3 separate regions of the Homo sapiens genome follow, and all the other regions are linked to region 1. The links come from fine-mapping of genetic effects on gene expression. A gene starts in region 1. Each other region holds a variant in brackets. All regions are shown on one strand. Distances are between the middles of the regions.

The links. PIP is the estimated chance that this variant, and not a neighbour inherited with it, causes the effect.
Region 2: its variant is fine-mapped to the expression of ANGPTL6 in prefrontal cortex (BrainSeq, PIP 0.91).
Region 3: its variant is fine-mapped to the expression of ANGPTL6 in whole blood (TOPMed, PIP above 0.99).

The regions. Positions count from the first base shown.
Region 1 is chr19:10,098,351-10,106,529 of GRCh38, reverse strand. It overlaps ANGPTL6 (angiopoietin like 6), which reads left to right and starts at 3,852. Exons shown (of 6, transcript NM_031917.3): 1 at 3,852-3,962. It overlaps PPAN (peter pan homolog), which reads right to left and starts at 168. Exons shown (of 12, transcript NM_020230.7): 1 at 118-168; 2 at 1-29. The coding sequence starts at 135. PPAN-P2RY11 (PPAN-P2RY11 readthrough) reads right to left here and starts at 168. Exons shown (of 13, transcript NM_001198690.2): 1 at 118-168; 2 at 1-29. The coding sequence starts at 135. RefSeq lists silencers at 1-21, 7,258-7,307 and enhancers at 242-291, 1-531, 3,673-3,722, 3,793-3,842.
Region 2 is chr19:10,189,727-10,197,905 of GRCh38, reverse strand. DNMT1 (DNA methyltransferase 1) reads left to right here and starts at 2,953. Exons shown (of 41, transcript NM_001130823.3): 1 at 2,953-3,086. The coding sequence starts at 3,007. RefSeq lists an enhancer at 2,520-2,749 and a silencer at 3,010-3,249. The variant C/T (reference allele first, on the strand shown) is at 3,300.
Region 3 is chr19:10,122,810-10,130,988 of GRCh38, reverse strand. No RefSeq gene overlaps it. Among named protein-coding and RNA genes, the nearest start is that of EIF3G, 7.0 kb to the right of the region's middle. The variant T/C (reference allele first, on the strand shown) is at 4,480.

The sequences.
Region 1 (8,179 bases):
TGGGCGCGGGCGCGCTTCTGGTGCCGGGACTGCGGCGACGAGAGACAAAGGGTCAGCGCCGCGACCTCGGCCGGGACCCCACCTGCGCCACCTGCCTCCCAAGCTGCCGGGCCTTACCCTCCCTGACTGTCCCATGCTGCTGTGTCCTCCACGAGGCCTCCTGCGTCCGCCGCTTCCGGCGCTGCGCAGCTCACTTCCGGCGCCTGAGAGCCGGCACGGCGTGGGACGACATCAGGCGGGCCTGCGCACTAGGTGGCCTCTGGGAGCGGGGAGGGGCAATCAGATGGAGCGGTTGCTATGGAGACACGGGTGCCTGTTTCTAGGGAGACCGGGGCGGGGCTACGCGGCTCCGGGCTGCAGAGAAACGAATCCGCCGGTTCGAATCCCGCTTCGGCCCATTTCCTCCAGCTGGGCTAAAACCACTTTCTGCATTCCGAGGCTCCTAAAATATCCCAAAGTAAGGCTGATAATGTCCCCCGGGCCCACGAATTAGGAGCGACCATGTATGCACAATGTTGGGCGCTCTGGCGCCAAGTACTTGGGGAGAAGCCACCGGAGGGAATGACTGTGGCAATCATTCACTTTAGTCTCGCAACTCCTCTGGGCCAGCTGTCCTCCCCGGGTACCCCTGTCTGCAGACAGGCTGAGGGATGGAAACTCCACATCACCTTCTGGAAACTCAGGGCAAGGCGGGCGTTTCGTGAATAACTCGCCCCCTCCTTCTTTCCGCTCAAAGCCTCAGTCTTGGCCTCAGGCCTCTGGCTTCTTCCCCAAAACCTTGCAGTGGGGGAAAGGGACACCCCCTCACTGGGCTGAACATTACTCTCTCCTCCCCCATCGGCCTCCTCTCCCTCCTTGCTCTCTCTGGCACCCCAATTCTTCCTCCTCTCCCCCAGATGTGTCTCCCCTCCCCCTCGTCTTCCCCCTGTCTCTTTCTCCCTCTTGTAACTTTGTCTCTGTCATCAGTTGTCTCTTTCATCATTTATAACTGAAGATGGAAACTAAAGAAGTTTCCTTTCTCTGTGTCTGGCCCCATCCCTGTTTCTTTCTTCTCATCTGCCTCCCTGTGGTCTCTCCCCATCTTCCCATCTCTCTCTGTCTCTCCCCATCTCCCCGTCTCTCCCTTTCTCTGCCATCTCCCTATGTCTCTCCCATCTCCCTATGCCTCTCCCATCTCCATCTGTCTGACTCTCTGTATTCTTCAGCCCCTCTCTGTGACTTATGAAGTTCCCTCCCTCTCTACTGCCAATGGGGAAGCCAGAGGGGGCTGAGGGTGGGGGGCCGAGGGGCCCAGTGTGGGGGCCCCAACCCAGGCCCAGAGCCCAGCCTGGCAGCCTCTCTCAGATCTGGGACGACCATTTCCTTTTTCAACCCTGGAGTCCACTCGAGTTACTCGGGAGCTCAGGATGGTGCAGACCAGGGGAAGGAGGTGACTCTCCCGGCGTGTGGCTGGTCGTCGGTGGGGCCTTTGGACAGGTCTCAGACCCTGGGCCTGGGCTCTGTGGGGCTCTATGTGAGTTTCTTTGTACCCCTGGGAAATGACTGCATGGTTACTTCCCCCAGTTCCGTCCTCGTGTGATTTGACTTGTGTGAAAATGTGACCGAGTGTGTGGGAGACAGACGGTGACCTCTGTGGTGCGGTGGATAGGTTTCCGGGTGTCAACTGTGTGTACCTGTTTTGTATCTGTGCACTACTGTGTGATCACAAGAACCAGGATGTGGACAAGCCTGACACACAGATAAAGACCCACTCAGCCCACCCCATTTCCCTTTAAGTTGTGATGTGTGTGTGACCATATTTGGAACATACAGTTGTTGCCTGAAACTGTTATGTTTCCAGCTGTGTCTTTTTAAAAATTTTTTTTAATCAATGAGATATCCTTTATTTATGAAAGCATAGTTCCAATGCAGAAGTCAAGCTTTATGGTTATATATTAGGATAGGTTCAGATCCAATATGACAATGTTTAGCACTAACTTTAACATGTTAAAGCTCTGATTCCTGAATGTTTTTCTCACTTAATATATTCTCTCCAATGACAAGCTGGTGTGCTTGGCTTCTTATGCTGAAAAATATATGCCTGAATTCTATAACAAGCTATTAACAAAATCATGAATAGTTAATTAAATAAGTGCCAACACTACATGGAACTTACTGGCCACCAACTCAGAACCATAAAACTACACACACACACACACACACACACACACACCACACACACAAACAAAACAAAAAAAACACCAAAGAAAGATAGCTATCACTGTACATATGAATACTGTCCAGGATATCAGATCAATTATCAAATCCAAGGTCTCTGGTGTTTTGTCTCACAGTGTTGAATATATGAATGCTTCTCTATTATACTGACTTGTATTATTTTCAACAAATAATTATGTGGACTCAAAATCTTACATTTTTATTTCTTTTCTTTTTTTTTTTTTTTTTTTTGAGACAGAGTCTTACTCTGTCGCCCAGGCTGGAGTGCAGTGGCTCACTGCAACCTCCGCCCCCCGGGTTCAAGCGATTCTCCTGCCTCAGCCTCCTGAGTAGCTGGGATTACAGGCATGGGCCACCACACCCGGCAAATTTTTGTATTTTTAGTAGAGACGGGGTTTCACCATCTTGGCCAGGCTGGTCTCGAATTGCTGACCTCGTGATCTGCCCACCTTGGCCTCCCAAAGTGCTGGGATTACAGGCGTGAGCCACCGCGCCCAGCCTTACATTTTTATTTCTAATTATAAAATCCAGATTAATCCAAAAAACATAAATCACATGTAACTGAGGTAGGGTTTTCACTTTAAGAATATATTGTTTCTATCACAATTTAAAAATTTACAGCTGTGTCTTTTATATTTATTTTTTATTTTAATTAATTAATTCCTCACTTTATTATTATTTATTTATTATTTATTTATTTATTTATTTATTTATTTTTGAGATGGAATTTCAGTCTTGTCGCCCAGGCTGGAGTGCATGCGGTTGCTCGATCTCGGCTTACTGCAACCTCCACCTCCTGGCTTCAAGCAATTCTCCTGCCTCAGCCTCCCGCGTAGCTGGGATTACTGGCGCATGCCACCATGCCCAGCTAATTTTTGTATTGTTAGTAGAGACGGGGTTTTAGCATGTTGGCAAGGATGGTTTCGAACTCCTGACCTCAGGTAATCCACCTGCCCCGGCCTCCCAAAGTGCTGGCTTTCAGGCATGAGCCACTGCACCCAGACTTTCGCTGGGTGTTAATGTGTGCGTGCGTGCAAATGTGTGTGTGTGTGTTTGTGTCCACTCTGTTATGTGCCCATATGTGTGTGACAGCTGTGGTGTACATGTGTGAGTTTCTGAGTCAAGCTACCTTGGCTGGCTCCCATCCTGGTCTCTTTTTGGCTGTGTGACCGCAGGCAAGTTGCTTACCCTCTCTGAGCCTCAGTTTTCCCTGCTGTAAAATGAGGGTACATACAGAATCCAGCTCAGGTTGTAAGGATCAAATACGTAAAAGGTGTGGAGAGTTTAGAGCCAAGCCCTACACACGGTAAGTCCCCAGTGATGTTCCTCTTTCTATGTGTGGTGTGTGCGTGTCTGGGGCTGGGATCACGCCTGGCTGCCCCAGGGCCTGCAGCCTCCCACGCTCTGGGCTCTGCAGTGGAGGGTGTGGGGGAAAGGGAGGGATGTCCAGGACACTGACCTGTGTTATCAGGCTCTGGTGGCCTGGGCAGGGGGGTCTGGCAATTCTGTCTCATTTCTCATTCGGGAAATGCTAAATATTTATAGTTTGGGCTCCTGGGCCCAGCATCCCAGCTCCACTCCCAGGCTCTGGGGGCTGGGGAGTGGTTACCAAGCCTCCTCTCTCCTTCTGTCCCACTGCCCTCTCCCCGTCTCTAGCTCAGAGGCCCCACTGGACCCTCGGCTCTTCCTTGGACTTCTTGTGTGTTCTGTGAGCTTCGCTGGATTCAGGGTCTTGGGCATCAGAGGTGAGAGGGTGGGAAGGTAGGTGGAGGTTGATTCTCACTGTGGGGAAACTCCGACCACAGCTTGGCTTGGGGGCCCCCAGGCCACCCCGCCACCCCAGGCTGAGAGTGTAAAAGGCAGCGGGTGTTATACACACGTCCCAGTTCTGGGGGGTTGCTCAATCTCTGTTGTGGGGGGTGGGGCATGTCAGTGATCGGGGACAAAGAGAGGACCCTACCCCCGGATCCTTGTGAGCCCCTGCTTGGTGTCTGAGTCCAGAAGTAAATGTGGCCATCTCCAGCCCAGAACCCTCCATGGCTCCTGCCTGACTCAGAGTAAAACCCAAGTCCTCCTCCGGGCCCACAGGACCCTTCACACTTTGCCCTGACACTTCTTACCTCCTCCTGCTTCCCCCTTCTCTCTTCCGGCCTCATAGACATTTCTGCCATTTCTTTTTTTTTTTTTTTTTTTTTTTGAGACAGAGTCTCGCTCTGTCACCCAGGCTGGAGTGCAGTGGCGCGATCTCAGCTCACTGCAAGCTCCGCCTTCCGGGTTCACGCCATTCTCCTGCCTCAGTCTCTGGAGTGGCTGGGGCTACAGGCGCTCGCCACCATGCCCGGCTAATTTTTTTTTTTTTTTTTGTATTTTTAGTAGAGACGGAATTTCACTGTGTTAGCCAGGATGGTCTCGATCTCCTGACCCCGTGATCCACCTGCCTTGGCCTCCCAAGTGCTGGGATTACAGGCGTGAGCCACCGCACCTGGCCTTTTTTTTTTTTTTTTTTTTGAGCCTTGCTCTGTCGCCCAGGTTGGAGTGCAATGGCGCAATCTCTGCTCACTGCAACATCGGCCTCCTGAGTTCAAGTGACTCTCCCACCTCAGCCTCCTGAGTAGTAGCTGGGATTACAGGCATGCATTACCATGCCCAGCTAATTTTTGTATTTTTAGTAGAGACGGGGTTTCACCATGTTGGCCAGGCTGGTCTTGAACTCTCGACCTCAGGTGATCCTCCCGCCTCGGCCTCCCAAAGTGCTGGGATTACAGGCGTGAGCCACCGTGCCTGGCCCCTTTCTGCCATTTCTTGGGTGCAATCTCCGGGCCTTTGCACCTGCTGTTCTCTCTGCCTGGAATGCTCTTCCTCTTCTCTCTCTTCCATCAGGTCTTTGTGAAAGTGTCCCTTATTCTTTATTTTATTTTTATTTTTATATTTAGTAGAAATGGACTTTCACCATATTGGCCAGGCTGGTCTCAAACTCCTAGGCTCAAGCAATCCTCCTGCCTTGGCCTCCCAAAGTGCTGAAATTACAGGCATGAGGCACTGTTCCAGTCAAGTGTCACTTCTTCTGTGAGGCCTTTCCTGACTCCTCTATTTTATTTTTTTTTGAGACAGAGTCTCGCTCTATTGCCCAGGCTGGAGTGCAGTGGTGCAATCATGGCTCACTGCAACCTCTGCCTTCCGGGTTCAAGTGATTCTTGTGTCTCAGCCTCCTGAGTAGCTGAGACTACAGGCGCGTGCCACTACGCCTGGCTAATTTTTGTATTTTCAGTAGAGACAGGGTTTCGCCACGTTAGCCAAGCTGGTCTCAAACTCCTGGCCTCAAGTGATCCTCCCACCTCAGCCTCCCAAAGTGCTGGGATTACAGGCACCTCGGCCTCCCAAAGTGCTGGGATTACAGGCACCTCGGCCTCCCAAAGTGCTGGGATTACAGGCGTGAGTCAGCACACCCAGTCCTGACTCCTCTATTAAATGTCCCCCACCTCCGGGACTGTCACCCCCTTGCCTGTTCCATTTTTCTCCTAAGCACGATTACCCTCTGACCTACCTAGCGGCTGTTTGACTTATTTCTCTGTTCTCCCAACTTGAATGTCAGCTCTGCAAGGGCAGGAATTTTGTCTGTTTGGGTTAAGGCTGTGTCCTCATTGCCTAAAACAGCATCCCTGGCACACAATAGGCACTCAAGGTGTCTGTGGTTGAATGCATGAATGAGGCAATGTGTGTGTGAGATGGAGACCCTCGGGATATGTGCTTGTGCAGGCATCAGGAAGCATAGGTTTAGGGCCAGTGTGGTTGCTCACATCTGTAATTTCAGCACTTTGGGAGTCCAAGGTGGGAGGATCACTTGAGCCTGGGAGTTTGAGACTAGCCTGGGCAACACAGTGAGACCCCCTCCCTACAAAAAAGTAGCTGGGCATGGTGGTGCGCACCTGTAGTTCCAACCACTCAGGAGGCTGAGGCAGGAGGACCACTTGTGTGCAGGAATTGGAGGCTACAGTGAGCTATGATTGCTCCACTGCACTCCAGCCTGGGCAACAGAGCACGACTCTCTCTTTTTTTTCTTTTTTTTTGAGATGGAGTCTCACCCAGGTTGCCTAGGCTAGAAGGCAGTGGTGCGGTCTCAGCTCACTGCAACCTCTGCCAGGTTCAAGCCGTTCTTCTGCCTCAGCCTCCCGAGTAGCTGGGATTACAGGCATGCGCCACCACGCCCAGCTAATTTTTTGTACTTTTAGTAGAGACGGGATTTCACCTGTTGATCAGGCACCCTGTCTCTACTAAAAATACAAAAATTAGCTGGGTGTGGTGGCGCATGCCTGTAATCCCAGCTTCTTGGGAGGCTGAGGCACAAGAATCACTTGAACCCGGGAGGTGGAGGTTGCAGTGAGCTGAGATTGCAGAGCGAGACTCCGTCTAAAAAAAAAAAAAAGAGGGCGTGGGGGAGAGAGAGAGAGAGAGAGAGAGAAAGAGAGAAAGAGAGAGAGAGAGAGGGAGAGACAGAGAGAGAGAGAGCTTGTATATGGAGGTACAACCCTAAATCTGCTGTTCAAGGAGCGCTGCTGAGACTTGAATAAGGATAGGAAGGGAATGATGTTAAGTTGTGAACAATGTTCCAGGCTGCAAAAACAGCAGGTACAAAGGACCTGAGGCTGGAACTTGCTTCGTGTGAGGAAGGGCCTGGGAGGAGGGCAGAAGGGGATATGGCAGATAGCACAAGTTTTTTTTTTTTTTTTTTTTTTTTTGAGATGGAGTCTTGCTCTGTTGCCCAGGCTAGAGTGCAGTGGCACAGTCTCGGCTCACTGCAAGCTCTGCCTCCCGGGTTCAAGCCATTCTCCTGCCTCAGCCTCCCGAGTAGCTGGGACTACAGGCAGCCGCCACCACGCCTGGCTACTTTTTTTGTATTTTCAGTAGAGACGGGGTTTCACTGTGTTAGCCAGGATGGTCTCGATCTCCTGACCTCGTGATCCGCCCGCCTCCGCCTCCCAAAGTGCTGGGATTACAGGCGTGAGTCACCAAGATAGCGCAACTTTTTATGGATCATGGGTGGATTTGGGCTTTTCCTCTAAAGGAGGTGGGAGCCAAGAAGGATTCAGGGCAGAGGAGGGAGGGAGGGACGTGAACTGACTCAGATGTTCACAGGCGCCCTCTGGCTGCTGTCAGAGAGACTAGACCTGGGGTTGAGGATGGAAATCCAGAGAGCAGGGAGGCAGCTGCTGTCATCCAGATGGTGTCTTGAGCTGGGAATTCAGGGAGGGTCTGGGGGCAGTGGGGAGTAGCGGAGACGTGGAGGAATTCAGGATCTAAGCAGAAGAGCAGACGGGTCTGGCTGATGGATTAGATCTGCTGAGATGGGTTGGATCTGCTGGGGTTTTGGTCTGAGGACGTGGAAGATGGGGTTTCCAATATCCGACGGATGGGAAGGCAGTTAGTGAGACGTTTCCCTCACCCCACCTCACCTCCTTGCACCCTGCTCCCTTTGCTATTTTTTTTTTTTGAGACAGTGTTTTGCTTTTGTTGTCCAGGCTGGAGTGCGGTGGTGCGATCTCGGCTCACTGCAACCTCCACCTCCCAGGTTCAAGTGATTCTCCTGCCTCAGCCTCCCAAGTAGCTGAGATTTCAGGCCTGTACCACCACACCCGGCTAATTTTGCACTTTCAGTAGAGATGGGGTTTCACTATGTTGGTCATGCTAGTCTCGAATTCCTGACCTCAGGTGATCCACCCACCTTGGCCTCCCAAACTGCTGGGATTACAGACATGAGCCACAGCACCCAGCCTCCCTTCGCTTTTGCTTTAACCTCTCCCAGGTTGCTTTAATACATCAGGCAGGGTCCAGTCTCAGAGCTTTTGCACTTAGATCTGCTCCTCCACCAGGCCTTCCCTTTAGGCAACCCCCTCTCAAGCTGCCCCTGCACAGACCTGCGTATTCTTTACCTAGTTTGCTGTTTTTTGTTATTGTTTTGTTTTAA
Region 2 (8,179 bases), 91 kb before region 1:
ACTTCCATGCTGTTTCTCATAGCAGCTCCACCATTTTATTCGACTCTCAACCGTGCACAAGGGTTCCAGTTTCTCCACATCTTCACCAACACTTATTATTTGACAGTGGCCATTCTAAGGGGTCTTAGGGATATTTCATTGTGGTTTTGATTTGCATTTCCCTGATGACCAGTGATGTTGAGCATCTTTTCATATGCCTGTTTTCTATTTGCATATCTCCTTTGGGAAAGTATGTATTCAAATCATTTGCTCTTTTTGTTTGTTTTTGAGACGGAGTCTCGCTCTGTTGCCCAGGCTGGATGGAGTGCAGTGGTGCAATCTCGGCTTGCTGCAAGCTCCACCTCCTGGGTTCACACCATTCTCCTGCCTCAGCCTCCTGATTAGCTGAGACTACAGGCGACTGCCACCACGCCTGGCTAATTTTTTGTATTTTTAGTAGAGATGGGGTTTCACCACGTTAGCCAGGATGGTCTCGATCTCCTGACCGCGTGATCCGCCTGCCGCCTGGGCCTCCCAAAGTGCTGGGATCACAGGTGTGAGCCACCGCACCCAGCCCATTTGCTCATTTGTAAATCGAGTTTTTGTTGTTGCATTGTAGAAATTTATTATTTTTTAAATTTTTATTTGAGACAGAGTTTCTCTCTTGTTGCGCAGGCTGGAGCGCAATGGTGCAATCTCGGCTCACTGCAACCTCCGCATCCCAGGTTCAAGTGATTCTCCTGCCTCAGCCTTCCGAGTAGCTGGGATTACAGGCACACCACCATGCCCAGCAAATTTTTATATTTTGAGGAGAGACAGGGTTTCACCATGTTGGCCAGGCTGGTCTCAAACTCTTGACCTCAGGTGATCCACCCGCCTTGGCCTCTCAAAGTGCTGGGATTACAGGCGTGAGCCACCAAGCCTGACGGGTAGTAATTTATTTTTTATATAATTTTTTTCTTCTTTTTTTGGTAGAGACGAGGTTTTGCCATGTTGCTCAGGCTGGTCTAAAACTACCGGGCTCAAGTGATCTGCCTACCCGGGCCTCCCAAAGTGCAGGGATCACAAGCATGAACCACCATGCCTGGCTGTAATTTTTCATATATTCCGGATATTAACCCTTTACCAGATAATACAGTTTGCAAACTTTTTTTTTCCCCATTCTGTAGGTTGCCTTTTCACTGTTGGTCATTTCTTTTGCTGTATAGCTATCCTTAAGTTTGTTGCAAACCCATTTGTCTATCTTTTGTCTTGTTGCCTGTGTTTTGCTGTCATATCCAAGAAATCATTGCCAAATCCATTGTCATGAAGCTTTTCCCCATGTTTTCTTCTAGGAGCACTATAGTTTCAGGTCTTATGTTTAATCTTTAATAAGTTTTGTGTTTTTGTATATGGTGTAAGGTAAGGGTCCAACTTCATTCTTTTGTATGTGGTTATACAGTTTTCTCAGCACCATTTGTTAAAGACACAATCTTTCCCCCATGTTCTGGTGCTTTAAAAAAAAAAAAAATTCTGGCTGGTTACGGTGGCTTAGGCCTATAATCCCAGCACTTTGGGAGGCTGAGGCAAGTGGACTGCTTGAGGCTAGGAGTCCCAGACTAGCCTGGCCAACATGGTGAAACCCTGTCTCTACCACCGAAGATACAAAAATTAGCCAGGCGTGGTGGAGTACGCCTGTAATCCCAGCCTACTAGGGAGGCTGAGGCATGAGAATCGCTTGAACCTGGGAGGCAGAGGTTGCAGTGAGCCAAGATCTCACCACTGCACGCCAGCCGGGGTGACAGAGTGAGGCAGGGTCTTACCCTGTCGCCCAGGCAGGAGTCCAGTGGCCCAATCATGGCTCATTGCAGCCTACACTGCCAGGGTTCAAGCCATCCTCCCACCTCAGCCTCCCAAGTAGCTAGGATTACAGGTGTGTGTCACCATGCCCAGCAAATCTTTGTATTTTTTGTAGAGATGGGGTATCCCTATGTTGCTCAGGCTGGTCTTGAACTCCTAACCTCAAGCGATCCTCCCACCTGGGCCTCTCAAAGCACTGGGATTACAGGCGTGAGCCACTGCGCCTGACATGGTGCTTCTTAATTTATTCTTACTTTTTATTTTTATTTTTTTGAGACAAGGTCTTGCTCTGTCTCCCAGGCTGGAATGTAGTGGTACAATCATGGCTCACTGCAACCTCTGCCTCTCCGGTTCAAGTGATCTTCCTGCCTCAACCTCTGGAGTAGTTTGGACTATGGGCACATGCCACAACGACTAGCTAATTTTTGTTTTTCTTTTTTTCTTTCTTTCTTTCTTTCTTTTTTTTTTTTTTTGAGATGCAGTTTCTCTATGTTACCTAGGCTGGTCTAAAACTCCTGGGCTCAAGCGATCCTCCCACCCTGGCCTCCCAAAGTGCTGGGATGACAGGCGTGAGCCACGTGGTGCTTAAAAAAGGCAACAAAAAACCCCCCACACACTGGGTATAGAAGTGGCATGGGCCTCTATACACTGTGAGATTCTTGGTACTAGCTACAAATTCTGTGTATACTCAAGATTTTCTAGAGTAGGTGCAATTACCCCGTTTTACAGATGAGGACACAGAGGCTGAGCCGTAGTGACCCACCTAAGGTCGTATAGCCAGCAAATAGATGGAGGTTGGATTGGAACTGAGGACTTTACTCAAGGGCTCTCACAAACCCTTGGGGGCTTCTCGCTGCTTTATCCCCATCACACCTGAAAGAATGAATGAATGAATGCCTCGGGCACCGTGCCCACCTCCCAGCAAACCGTGGAGCTTGGACGAGCCCACTGCTCCGCGTGGGGGGGGTGTGTGCCCGCCTTGCGCATGCGTGTTCCCTGGGCATGGCCGGCTCCGTTCCATCCTTCTGCACAGGGTATCGCCTCTCTCCGTTTGGTACATCCCCTCCTCCCCCACGCCCGGACTGGGGTGGTAGACGCCGCCTCCGCTCATCGCCCCTCCCCATCGGTTTCCGCGCGAAAAGCCGGGGCGCCTGCGCTGCCGCCGCCGCGTCTGCTGAAGCCTCCGAGATGCCGGCGCGTACCGCCCCAGCCCGGGTGCCCACACTGGCCGTCCCGGCCATCTCGCTGCCCGACGATGTCCGCAGGCGGTAGGTACCATGGGGGGGAACACGGACTCAGGGGGACAGGCAGGGCGCTGGGTGGGGGGTCGCTTCCCCTCGGGGTGGCCGGTGGCCGCTGCTGACAGACGGGCGCGCATGCGTGGGGTGGTGCGGCGCGCAGCGGCAGTTGGCGCGGGCAGGGTGGCACTTCCGGTCGCGCGTGCCCGGGCTGTTTGGCGCCAAAATGGACCGTGGATTCCC[C/T]CGTAGCTCCCTGGTGGCTAGAAACTAGGCGGGGTGGGGGTTCTCTTTTGATCCCCAAATACAGCAAGCTTTGGGTTCGTTTCCGGGGTCCCCTTCTTCAAGCAGCGGTGGGCCGGGCTCTTGACTCCAGCTTGGTCGCACAGGAAGTGGGCAGCCCGCGGCCAACGGACACCCCTCGGGCACCGGCACTTCGGCCTCCACTTCCGGTGTCCGGCCCGGTCCCCGGGGGCGCTTCTGTGGTGGGGGGTCCCTCAGTGCCTTTCCCCCAAAGCTGTGCATCTCGATGGCGGCCTCCAGAGACGGATGTCACCCGTCGGGGCCTGGGCTGGGCTGGCTCATGTTCGAGAGCCCAGCCTTCCGTGGGGTACTCATTCTGTCAGTTGGGACTGTGTGGTTCTTGCTCCTTGGGAAAGTCCATGTTTTGGCAGGAACTTTAACCGTGCATTGCAGCGCAGGGCCCGGGAAGCGTGAAGGCTGCATGGTTGGTCTTTTCCTGTAAATCTGTGCCTGTGAGCCGTGGGCATCAGGGAAGTCTTGCTAATGAGAACTGGCTACACTTTCGTGTGTGTTTGTGTGTGTTCATGGGTGTGTTCTTTAGTGTGTGTCTAATGTTGGAGGCCCTGGCTTTAGCAGTTCATGCCTCTGTCCAACTTCCGTGCACAAGGATCAGTGGGAGCACTGGTCCCAGCCCCTTGTTCATGAACGCCATCAGTTCATTCCTGAAAACTTGTTCAAGTGAGGTGTGCGTGAGTCAGAGGAACCCTCACCAGGCGTGGACACTTCCAGCTGGATTTGTGAAAGCACTCTTTGCCATTTTTCTATTTCCTTAGGCTTGTTAACTGACCTGGTTGGGCCAGTCCGGTTCTGATTTGGGTCTTTGGGGAGGGATGGATATTTGGTTCAACCCCCGCTTTTTTTCTTTTCTTTTTTTTTTTTTTTTTGAAGGCTGGGTGCTGTGGCTTATGCCTGTAATCCCAGCAATTTGGGAGGCAGTGGCGGACGAATCTCTTGAGCCAGGAGTTTGAGACCAGCCTGGGCAACAAGGCAAAACCCCATGTCTACTAAAAATACAAAAATTAGCCTGGAGTAGTGCCGTGCGCCTGTGGTCCCAACTACTCAACAGACTAAGGTGGGAGTATCACTTGAGCCCCAGAGGTTGAGGCTGTGTGTAGCGAGCTGAGATCGCGCTATTGCACTCCAGCCTGGGTGACAGAGTGAGACCCTGTCTCAAAAAAAGAAACACTTTTTATTTTTAGAGATGGGTCTCACTCTGTTGTCCAGGCTGGAGTGCCCTGGCACAATTATAACTCACTGTAGCCTTGAACTCCTGGGCTTAAGGGATCCTCAGCCTCCTGAGTAGCTGGGACCACAGGCGCCCACCACCATGCCCAGATGACTTTCTTAGTTTTTGTTTCTGTATACGTGAGGTTTCACCATATTGCCCAGGCTGGTCTTAAACCCCTGCCCTCAAGCAGTCCTCCTGCCTTTGTGTCCCAAAGGTTAGGATTACAAGTATGAGCCATCATGCCTTAACTACTACTTTTTTTTGTTTGTTTGTTTGAGATGGAGTCTCATTCTTTCACCCAGGCTGGAATGCGGTGGCGTGATCTCGGCTCACTGCAACCTCCACTTTCAGGGTTCAAGTGATTCTCCTGCCTCAGCCTCCGAAGTAGCTGGGATTACAGGTGCACACCACCACGCCTGGCTAATTTTTGTGTTTTCAGTGGAGTCGGGGTTTCTCCATGTTGGTCAGGCTGGTCTCGAACTCCTGACCTCGTGATCCACCTGCCTCAGCCTCCCAAAGTGCTGGGATTATAGTCAAACCACTTCTTAACCAGTTAGTGGGTATATATCTTCTTGAATCATCTGTGCCAGTATTCTCCCAAAATAAAACTTGATTTAAAATGGAATGGAAGTGAAATTATGAAAGTGCCTGGCTTCATGATGTTACACCCAATTCAGAGAAGTTTGGGCCCGGCCTTCCTTTTTTATTCCTTTTTTTTATTTTGTAGAGATGGGGTCTTGCCATGTTGCTCAGGCTGGTCTTCGATTCCTGGCCTCAAGCGATCCTCCTGCCTCAGCTTCCCAAAGTGTTGGGATTACGGGTGTGAGCCACCATGCCCAGCCTGCCCAGCCTTCTTGAAAACATGACCTCCACTGGCTCAATGACCTTAAACAAGCGTATGCCACCTCTATATCCATAGTCTAGGAATAATGACATGGGTTTTCAGCTGGTATTGGGTTAAATGAGAATATGCATGGCACATAAAGGTTCACATGCTAGTGGCTAACTTAGCTTGTTTTTTTCAGTTTTTTTTTAAGAGACAGGATCTCACTGTGTCACCCAGGCTGGAATGCAGTGGCACAGTCATGGCTTACTGCAGCCTTGAACCCCTGAGCTCAAGCAATCCTCCTGCCTTAGCCTCCTGAGTGGCTGGCACATGCCACCATGCCCAAGTTAATCCTTAAAAAATTTTTTAGAAGGCTGGGCGCGGTGGCTCACGTCTGTAATCCCAGCACTTTGGGAGGCTGAGATGGGCAGATCACCTGAGGTCAGGAGTTTGAGACCAGCCTGGCCAACGTGGCGAAACCCCATCTCTACTAAAAATACAAAAAAATTAGCCAGGTATGGTGGCAGGTGCCTGTAATCGCAGCTACTCGGGAGGCTGAGGCAGGATAATCGCTTGAACCCAGGAGCCGAGATTGCACCGTTGCACTCCAGCCTGGGCAACAGGAGCGAAACTCTGTCTCAGAAAAAAAAAAAATTTTTTTTTTTAGAGATGAGGGTCTTGCTTTGTTGCCCAGGCTGGTCTTGAACTCCTGGACTGAAGCAATCCTCTGCGTTGGCCTCCCAAAGGGCTGAGATTACAGGCGTGAGCCACAGGGCCCGGCCATTATTCCTCAAGAGTTCTTAAAAGTGGATGCTGCAGGAGTTAACTGCCAGGAAGCAGGAATTCCTGCTAAGGTCTGCTGCTTGCCAAAGCCTTTCCCTTCAACAGGGGTTGCCAGTAGGCCACTGGCTCAGGGGCTCTGTTGGCCCTGTGCAAATATTTTGTTTGGCTGAATTGGAATACCATTAGGTGAGCCTTACAATCCACCACTGACCCTGGGTTCCACATTTCTTTACACTCAGATTGCTTCACTGTAGGCATTGGAGTTTTGGAGGACTGCTTTTGACCATGTGGTAGACATTGAAATTGTAGTTTATATGACTCACTCCACAGACTTTTTTTTTTTTTTTTACATTTTGAAAATATTTCATTAAATGAAAAATAAACATGGTATCCAACAGTACTTGAAACTTAGATTTTTTTTTTTTTTTAATTGAGGCAGGGTCTTGCTCTGTGGCCCAGGCTAGAGTGCAATGGTGTGATCTCAGCTCACTGCAGCCTCCGCTTCCCGGGTTTAAGCAATTCTCCTGTCTCAGCTTCCCAAGTAGCTGGGATTACAGGTGTGCACCACCACGCCCAGCTAATTTTTCTTTTTCCCCCTCGAGGCTGAGCCTTGCTCTGTCGCCCAGGCTGGAGTGCAGTGGCCGTGATCTCGGCTCACTGCAACCTCCACCTCCCGAGTTCAAGCAATTCTCCTACTTCAGTGTCCCAAGTAGCTGGGATTACAGGCGCCCGCCACCAAGCCCAGGTAATTTTTGTATTTTTATTAGAGACTGGGTTTTGCCATGTTGACCAGGCTGGTTTCAAACTCTTGATCTCAAGTGATCCACTTATCTTAGCCTCCCAAAATGCTGGGATTACAGGTATGATGGTGTCCAGCCGGTTCATTGTTTTTATTTTATTTTATTTTATTTTATTTTATTTTATTTTATTTTATTTTATTTTATTTTTGAGACAGAGTCTTGTGCTGTCGCCCAGGCTGGAGTGCAGTGGTGCGAACTTGGCTCACTGCAACCTCCCCCTCCCGGGTTCAAGTGATTCTCCTGCCTTAGCCTCCTGAGTAGCTGGGATTACAGGCATGTGCCACCACGCCCGGCTAACTTTTTCTTATTTTTAGTAGAAACCGGGGTTTACCGTGTTGGCCAGGCTGGTGTTGAACTCCTGGACTCAAGTGATTCGCCTGCCTCAGCCCCGCAAAGTGTTGGGATTACAGGCATGAGCCACCGTGCCTGGCCTTTTAATTCATTCTTAAGCCTGCTCTCAGACAGCTAGGCTTGCTTCTCCACAATAAAGAGTGTTGAATTTTGTCGGTGTATCCCGCATGGTGCCATTATAACACTGAAATTAGTGATTATTTCAGGGTCTGTTACCAGAGCGTGTCTGCCGTATTCACTGTATCTGCAGCTTGGAGCACAGTAGACTCAAATGCTTGCATGCCAGCTCTTCCCCTGTACAGCCTGGATTAACACTGATGCTAGCAGACTCCTTTGCACAACTGATTAGCTTTCGTAACTACCACAGCTTTCTTACTGCTAGTCATTCTGTGATGGGATTAAGCTAGGTCTTGAACTCCTTAACTCCAGTTCCTTGGCTACTACTGAGTACATACTGAATAAGGCAAAATTGACTTACCTCTTTTGTTTTGCTCCCCTGTGGTAGAATTCTAGGGGTACAGACTGCTGGGTTTCAAATGCCGCCCTACTTGCCAGCCGTATGGCTAAGTTATTGAACTTCTTGGTGCCTTGGTGTTTCATCTATAAAAAGGGGGTGGGGCTGCCTGCTCGACAGGGGTGTTAGGAAGACTGAGCTTATCAGTACAGATATGTTGAGAGCAGCACCTGTCCAAAGCCCTTCATCACTGGTTATTACGTGGTACTGTGTGTACAGTGGGGATGCTGTGGGTTTGGTTCCAGACCACTGCAGTAAAGTGAATCTAGCAAGAAAGTGAGTCACACACACATTTTGGTTTCCTAGTATGTGTAAAAGTTA
Region 3 (8,179 bases), 24 kb before region 1:
CACCTCAGCCTCCCAAAGTGTTGGGATTACAGGCATGAGCCACCACACCAGGCCTAATTTTTACTTACGTAGAGATGCAGTCTCACTATATTGCCTAGGCTGGTCTCAAACTCCTGGCCTCAAGCGATCCTCCCGCTTGGCTTCCTAAAGTGCTAGATTACAGGTATCTGCCACCATACCCAGCCAATAGTGTCAATTTTTTTTTTTTTTTAAATGAGATGGAGTTGTGGTCTTGTTGCCCAGGCTGGAGTGCAATGGCATGATCTTGGCTCACTGCAACCTCCGCCTCCTGGGTTCAAGCGATTCTCCTGCCTCAGCCTCCCGAGTAGCTGAGATTACAGGCGCCTACCACCACGCCCAGCTAATTTTAGTAGAGATGGGGTTTCACCATGTTGGCCAGGCTGGTCTCAAACTCCTGACAACAGGTGATCCACCCACCTTGGCCTCCAAAAGTGCTGGGATTACAGGCGTGAGCCACCACGCCTGGTGATAGTGTCTATTAAGATTGCCTTTACAAAACTTAGTGGGACATGGTGGCACGTGCCTGTAGTCCCAGCTACTCAGGAGCATGAAGTGGGAGAATCGCTTGAGCCCAGGAGGTGGAGGTTGCAGTAGCAATCTCGGCTCACTGCAACCGAGATTGTGCCACTGCACTCCAGCCTGGGTAACACAGCGAGACCCTGTCTCAAAAATAAACTGCTTTGGGCCGGGCACGGTGGCTCACGCCTGTAATTCCAACACTTTGGGAGGCCCAGGCAGGTGGATCACCTGAGGTCAGGAGTTTAAGACCACCCTGGCCAACAGGGTGAAACCCCATCTCTAGTATAAATACAAAAATCAGCCAGGTGTGGTACATGCCTGTAATCCCAGCTACTTGGGAGATTGAGGCAGAATTGCTTGAACCTGGGAGGCGGCGGCTGCAGTGAGCCACGATCACACCACCACACTCCAGCCTGGGCAACAAAGCGAGACTGTCTCGAAAAAAAAATAAACTGTCTTGCACCTCGAAGGTTGTCTTACCTAGGAATCTCTCTTGTTCCTCTATTTTTGAAAATTGGGGTAGAATATGAAATATGCGAGTCCTAAATGTTCAGCTTAAATTTCGAGAAGTGAACATAGCACTGTAGCCTATATCCTTATCAAGATAGAGAATGTCTCTGTCACCTCAGGTCACCTTGTGCCTCTTCCCACTTGATCTCCCCCTTCCCAGTCCCTGGGCAGCCTCCCATCCAGTTTTGTCTCCATAGATGACACCTGCCTGTTCAGGCCAGCATGGGCTCTTGTGTTTCAGATCTTTCAGCATAAATGCCTTTGGGATTCATCCATGTCATTAATATGTGTATCAGTTTTGTCCTTTTTAAAAAAAATATATATATATTTTAGAGGCAGGATCTTGCTCTGTTGCCCAGGCTGGAGTGCAGCGATGTTCTACTGCAGCCTTGATCTCCTGGGCTTAAGTGATCCTCCTGCCTCAGCCTCCTGAGTAGCTGGAACTACAGGCGCATGCCACCATGCCCAGCTAAGTTTTACATTTTTTTTGTGGAGATGGGGTCTCACTGTGTTGCTCAGGGTGGTCTCAAACTCCTGGCCTCACGTGATCCTCCCACCTCAGCTTCTGTAGTAGCTGGGACCACAGGCATGTGCCGCCATACCCAGCTAATCATTATTTTTATTTTTATTTATTTTTGAGACGGAATCTCACTCTGTCACCAGGCTGGAGTACGGTGGTGCGATCTTGGCTCACTGCAACCTCTGCCTCCTGGGTTCAAGCTATTCTCATGCCTCAGTCTCCCGAGTAGCTGGGATTACAGGCCTGCCACCAGGCCTGGCTAATTTCTATGTTTTTAGTAGAGATGGGGTTTCGCCATGTTGGCCAGGCTGGTCTCAGACTCCTGGGCTCAAGCGATCTGCCTGCCTCGGCCTCCCAAAGTGCTGGGATTACAGACATGAGCTACCATGCCTGGTAGCTGATTTTTATATTTTTTTATAGACAGGATCTCGCTTTGTTGCCCAGGCTGGTCTCAGAATCCTGGGCTCAAGCGATCTACCTGCCTTGGCATCCCCAAATGCTGGGATTATAGGCATGAACCACTGCGCCTGGACAAGAATATATTAACTATACTCACTATGTTATACAATAAATCTCTTAGAAAGCCTTTATTTGAACTTTTTTTCTTTATATTGTTTGGAAACAACTACAGTCTCAAGAGCAGTAGATTGAATTGTGATGCAGGTCAGGCCTTTGTATCCAAGGGTTCCACCTCTGGCATTCAACCAACCACAGATTTAAAATATTCAGAAAAATTCCACAAAGTTCCAAAAAGCAAAACTTGTATTTGCCACTTACCAAGTACTACATGGAATCCATGAGAATAAAGCAACGTGTAGACGTTATGTCAGGTATTACAAATAATCTAGAGACGACATAAAGTACACAGGAGAGGCCGGGCGCAGTGGGTCATGCCTGTAATCCCAGCACTTTGGGAGGCCAAGGTAGGAGGAACACTTGAGGCCAGGAGTTCAAGACCAGCCTGGCCAACATGGCGAAACACCTTCTCTACAAAAAATAACAAAAATTTGCTGAGCATGGTGGCACACACCTGTAGTCCCAGCTACTCCAGAGGCTGAGATGGGAGGATCACTTGAGCCCAGCAGGTGGAGGTTGCATTAAGCCGAGATTGCACTAGCCTGGGTGACAAAGCAAGACTCTGTCAAAAAGTAGTGTACACAGGAGAATATGTGTAGCGTATATGCAAATACTATGCCATTTTATTTTATTTTATTTTATTTTATATTTGAGACAGAGTCTCACTCTGTCGCCCAGGCTGGAGTGCAGTAGCACAATCTTGGCTCACTGCAACCTCTGCTTCCCGGGTTCAAGTGATTCTCCTGCCTCAGCCTCCCAAGTAACTGAGATTACAGGCATGTGCCGCCACGCCCGGCTAATTTTTTTGTATTTTTAGTAGAGACGGGGTTTCACCATGTTGGTCAAGCTGGTCTTGAACTCCTGACCTCAAATGATCCACCCGCCTCAGCCTCCCAAAGTGCTGGAACTACAGGTGTGAGCCACCATGCCCGGCCTATGACATTTTATATTAGGGATTTGAGCACATTCTGATTTTGGTACCACATGGGGTCCTAGAACCAATCCCCTGGGGATACCGAGGGATGGCTGGACATAGATTTGTATACACATGTGTATCCACGTCTAGGCTACTTTTCTAGGAGTTGAATGACTGGATTGAAACTTTAGAACTGGCACAGCCGCTAAAAGTCAAGCAGGTGTTTTATAGGGATTTCATTAACTTTGCAGACTTCTGGAAGAATTGACATGTTAATGACAAGCCTTCCTTTCTAAGAACAGGGTTTGTCCTGTTTGTTCAGGAATTCCTTTGTGTCCACAGCTTTTCATCCAGATCTTGCAGACTTCATAACTTGATTCCTAAGTATTTAGTCCCTTCATTACTAATATAAATGGGATGTTTTCTTGATTTCTAAACCATGGTCCTTTGCCTATGGAGAGATGCTCCATTTGTATTGGCTGTGATTTTGTAAACTGTGTTTTTTGAATCTAACCAACTTGTTGAATTCCTTTTTTTTTTTTTTTTTGGAGATGGAGTCTCACTCTGTCACCCAAGCTGCAGTGCAGTGGCGCGATCTCTGCTCACTGCAACCTCCATCTTTGGGTTCAAGGGATTCTCTTGCCTCAGCCTCCTGAGTAGCTGAGATTACAGGCATGGGCCATCACACCCAGCTAATGTTTGTATTTTTAGTAGAGATGGGGTTTCACCATGTTGGCCAGGCTGGTCTTGAACTCCTGACCTCGGGTGATCCGCTTGCCTCAGCCTCCCAAAGTGCTAGGATTACAGGTGTGAACCACCGCGCCTGGCCTGAATTTCCTTGTTTTTAATCCCACTTTTTCAGTGGTCACATTTTCAGGTATACGATCCTTCACCAAGAACAACTTGAGGATGTATTTTGGTGTAAGAATTAGAAACCTTGTCTTTTCTTTTTAGAGACAGGGTCTTGTTCTTTCACCCAGACTGGACTGCAGTGATGCGATCATAGCTCACTGCAGCCTCGAACTCCTTCGCTCCAGAGATCCCCCAACCTCAGTCTCTGGAGTAGCTGGGACTACAAGTATGTACCATCACGCCTAACTAATTTTTATTTTTATTTTTAGTAAAGATGAGTTCTTGCTATGTTGCCCAGGCTGGTCTCAAACTCCTGGGCTCCAATGATCGTCCCTCCTCATCCTTCCAAAGTGCTGGGATTACAGGTGTAAGCCACCGTGCCTGGCTTCTTTTTTTTTCCTTTTAATATATGATTATTTTTTGTAAAGATGGCGTCTCACTCTGTTGCCCAGGCTGGTCTCCAGTGATTTCAATTCTTGTAAGTATAAAGCAGATGTGGAAGTGCTGGGTCATTTGGTGGTTCTATTTTTAATGTTTTGAGGAACCACCATACCATAGTTCATAG[T/C]GGAAGGCTGTTTTTTAAATGAAATAAACATGTAAGGCTGAGGTGCCCATCTACTTCCCTAGAAAAACCACAGTAAGGACATTGCCACGTCTCCTTTCTGCCCCTGTTTTTTGGCTGTTACCACATCTGCATGTCCATCAATTTAGTATTTCTTTCTTTTTATCTCTATTTACTTTTTTTTTTTTTTTGAGATGGAGTCTCTGTTGCCTAGGCTGGAGTGCAATGGCGCAATCTTGGTTCGCTGCAACCTCCGCCTCCTGGGTTCAAGTGATTCTCCTGCCTCAGCCTCCTTAGTAGCTGGGATTACAGGCACGCACCACCACGCCCAGCTGTTTTTTTTTTTTTTCTTTTGAAACAGAGTTACCTTCTCGTTGCCCAGGCTGGACTGCAATGGCAGGATCTCGGCTCACCACAACCTCTGCCTCCTGGGTTCAAGCGATTCTCCTGCCTCAGCCTCCTGAGTAGCTGGGATTACAGGCATGCGCCACCACGCCCAGCTAATTTTGTATTTTTAGGAGAGACAGGGTTTCTCCATGTTGGTCAGGCTGGTCTCGAACTCCCAACCTCAGGTGATCCACCTACCTTGGCCTCCCAAAGTGCTGGGATTACAGGCGTGAGCCACCATGCCTGGCCACACCCAGCTGATTTTTGTATTTTTAGTAGAGATGGGGTATCATCATGTTGGCCAGGCTCGTCTCGAACTCCTGACCTCAAGTGATCCTCCCACCTCGGCCTCCCAAAGTGCTGGGATTACAGGTGTGAGCCACCGCGCATGGCCTATTTTTATTTTTTTTTACAAAGTCTTGGCCGGGTGCGGCGGCTCACACCTATAATCCTAGCACTTTGGGAGGCCAAGACAGGCGAATCACCTGAGTTTGGAGTTCAAGACTAGCCTGGCCAACATGGAGAAACCCCGTCTCTACTAAAAATACAAAATTAGCTGGGCATGGTGGCACATGCCTGTAATTCCAGCTACTAGGGAAGCTGAGGCAGGAGAATCACTTGAACCCGGGAGGTGGAGGTTGCGGTGAGCTAAGATCATGCCACTGCACTCCAGCCTGGGCAACAAGAGCAAAACTCCATCTCAAAAAAAAAAAAGGAGTCTCACTCCATCGCCCAGGCTGGAGTTCAGTGGCGCAGTATTGGTTCATGGCAACCTCTGCCTCCCGGGTTCAAGGGATTGCCATGCCTCAGCCTCCCGAGCAGCTGGGATTACAGATGCCTGCCACCACACCTGGCTAATTTTTGTATTTGTAGTAGACAACAGGGGTTTCGCTATGTTGGCCAGGCTGGTCTCGAACTCCTGACCTCAAGGGATCCGCCCACCTTGGCCTCCCAATGTGCTGGGATTACAGACGTGATCCACTGTGCCCAGCAGAAACAGGACCTTTAGAGAGAAAATTAAACCCAGGTGTGGTGGCTTATGCCTGTAATCCCAGCACGTTGGGAGGCCGTGGCAGGCAAACCACTTGAGATCAGGAGTTTGAGACCAGCCTGGCCAACTTGGTGAAACCCCGTCTCTACTAGAAATACAAAAATACAAAAATTAGCCAGGTGTGGTGGCACATGCCTGTAGACCCAGCTACTCGGGAGGCTGAGGCAGGAGAATCACTGGAACCCAGGAGGTGGAGGTTGCCATTAGCTGAGATTGCACCACTGCACTCCAGCCTGGACTACAGAGTGAGACTTCACCTTTAAAAAAAATAATTAAAAAAAAAAAGTTTAAATGAGGTCATTAGGGTGGGCCCTAATCCAATATGACTGATGTCCTTAGAAGAAGAGATTGGGACATAGACACACACAGAGGAGGCCACGTGAGGACCGAGGGAGAAGGTGCCCCCACCTCAGAAGAAACCAACCCTGCCGACACTGTGATCTTGGACTTCCAGCCTCCAGAACTGAGAAAATAAATGTGTGCTGTTTAAGCCTCCTAGTCTGTGATATTTTGTTGTGAAAATGTGAGAAAAAGTAACTAATGTTAAGCTGGGTTTGCTCAATTCTGCTTTCCAGCGTAATTTCACAAAGCCCCTGACTCTGAGACACGTGAGACACGTCTGCGCAGCTCTACAGAACAAGGCTTTGAAGACAAAACAGGACAGAGCACAGGGCACACCATGTCCCTTGCCCGAGTCACTATATTCCTTAAATGAGTCTGGGCACGGTGGTTCATGCCTGTGATCCCAGCATTTTGGGAGACCAGGGCAAGGGCATCACCTTAGCCTGGGGAGGTTGAGGCTGCAGTGAGCTGTGATCGTGCCACTGCACTCCAGCCTGGGTGACAGAGAAAGACCCTGTCTCAAAAAAAAAAAAAAAAAAAAAAAGGCGTGCCAGGTGCGGTGGCTCATGCCTGTAATCCCAGCACTTTGGGAGGCCCAGGCAGGCGGATCACCTGAGGTCGGGAGTTCGAGACTACCCTGACCAATATGGAGAAACCCCCGTCTCTACTAAAAATACAAAATTAGCCGGGTGTGGTGGTGTGCATGCCTGTAATCCCAGCTACTCAGGAGGCTGAGGCGGGAGAACCGCTTGAACCCAGGAGGCGGAGGTTGCAGTGAGCTGAGATCGCACCACTGCACTCCAGCCTGGGCAATAGAGCAAGACTCCGTCCCCCAAAAAAAAAAGAAAAAAGAAAAAAAGGACCTGGGCCGGGCACGGGTGGGTCACACCTGTAATCCCAGCACTTTGGGAGGCCAAGGTGGGCGGATCACAAGGTCGGGAGATCAAGACCATCCTGGCTAACACGGTGAAACCCCATCTCGACTAAACATACAAAAATTAGCTGGGCGTGGTGGCGGGTGCCTGTAGTCCCAGCTACTCAGGAGGCTGAGGCAGGAGAATGGCGTGAACCCAGGAGGCGGAGCTTGCAGTGAGCCGAGATTGTGCCACTGCCCTCCAGCCTGGGCAACAGAGTGAGACTCCATCTCAAAAAAAAAAAAAAAAAAAAGGACCTGGTTCAAACCTTTTCCTACACATAAAATAACATCTAATGGGGTCAGGGTATTATGCTTCTGTAATCTATAACCAGATGTACTCTTGCACCCAAACCTTGATGTGGCTCACACCTGTGTAATCCCAGCACTTGGCTCATGGCAGCCTCACCTCCTGGGCTCCAGCGATTCTCCTGCCTCAGCCTCCTGAGTAGCTGGGATTACAGACATGCACCAACATGCTCAGGTAATTTTTGTATTTTTAATAGAGATGGGTTTTCACCACGTTTTCCAGGCTGGTCTTGATCTCCTGACCTCAGGTCATCTGCCTGCCTTGGCCTCCCAAAGTGCTGGGATTACAGACGTGAGCCACTGTGCTCAGCCTCTTTCTTTTTTAGAGACAGGGTTTTTGCTCTGTCACCCAGGCCAGAGTGTAATGGCACAATCATAGCTCACTGCAGCCTTGACCTCCTGGGCTCAAGCAATCCTCCTACCTCAGCCTCCCAGGTAGCTGGGACTACAGGCGTGCATTACCACACCCAGCAATTTTTTGTGTGTAGTGATGGGGTCTCAATGATGTTGCCTAGTCTGGTCTTGAACTCCTGGGCTCAAGAAATCTTTCTGCCTTGGCCTCCAAAACTGCTGGGATTATAGGCACGAACCACAGTGCCCAGCCAAGAAATATATTTATATGTTACATCTCACATATATTACATAAATGCATATTATATATTAATACATGTCCAAAAATAATATTTCCTTTCTTGGTGCCT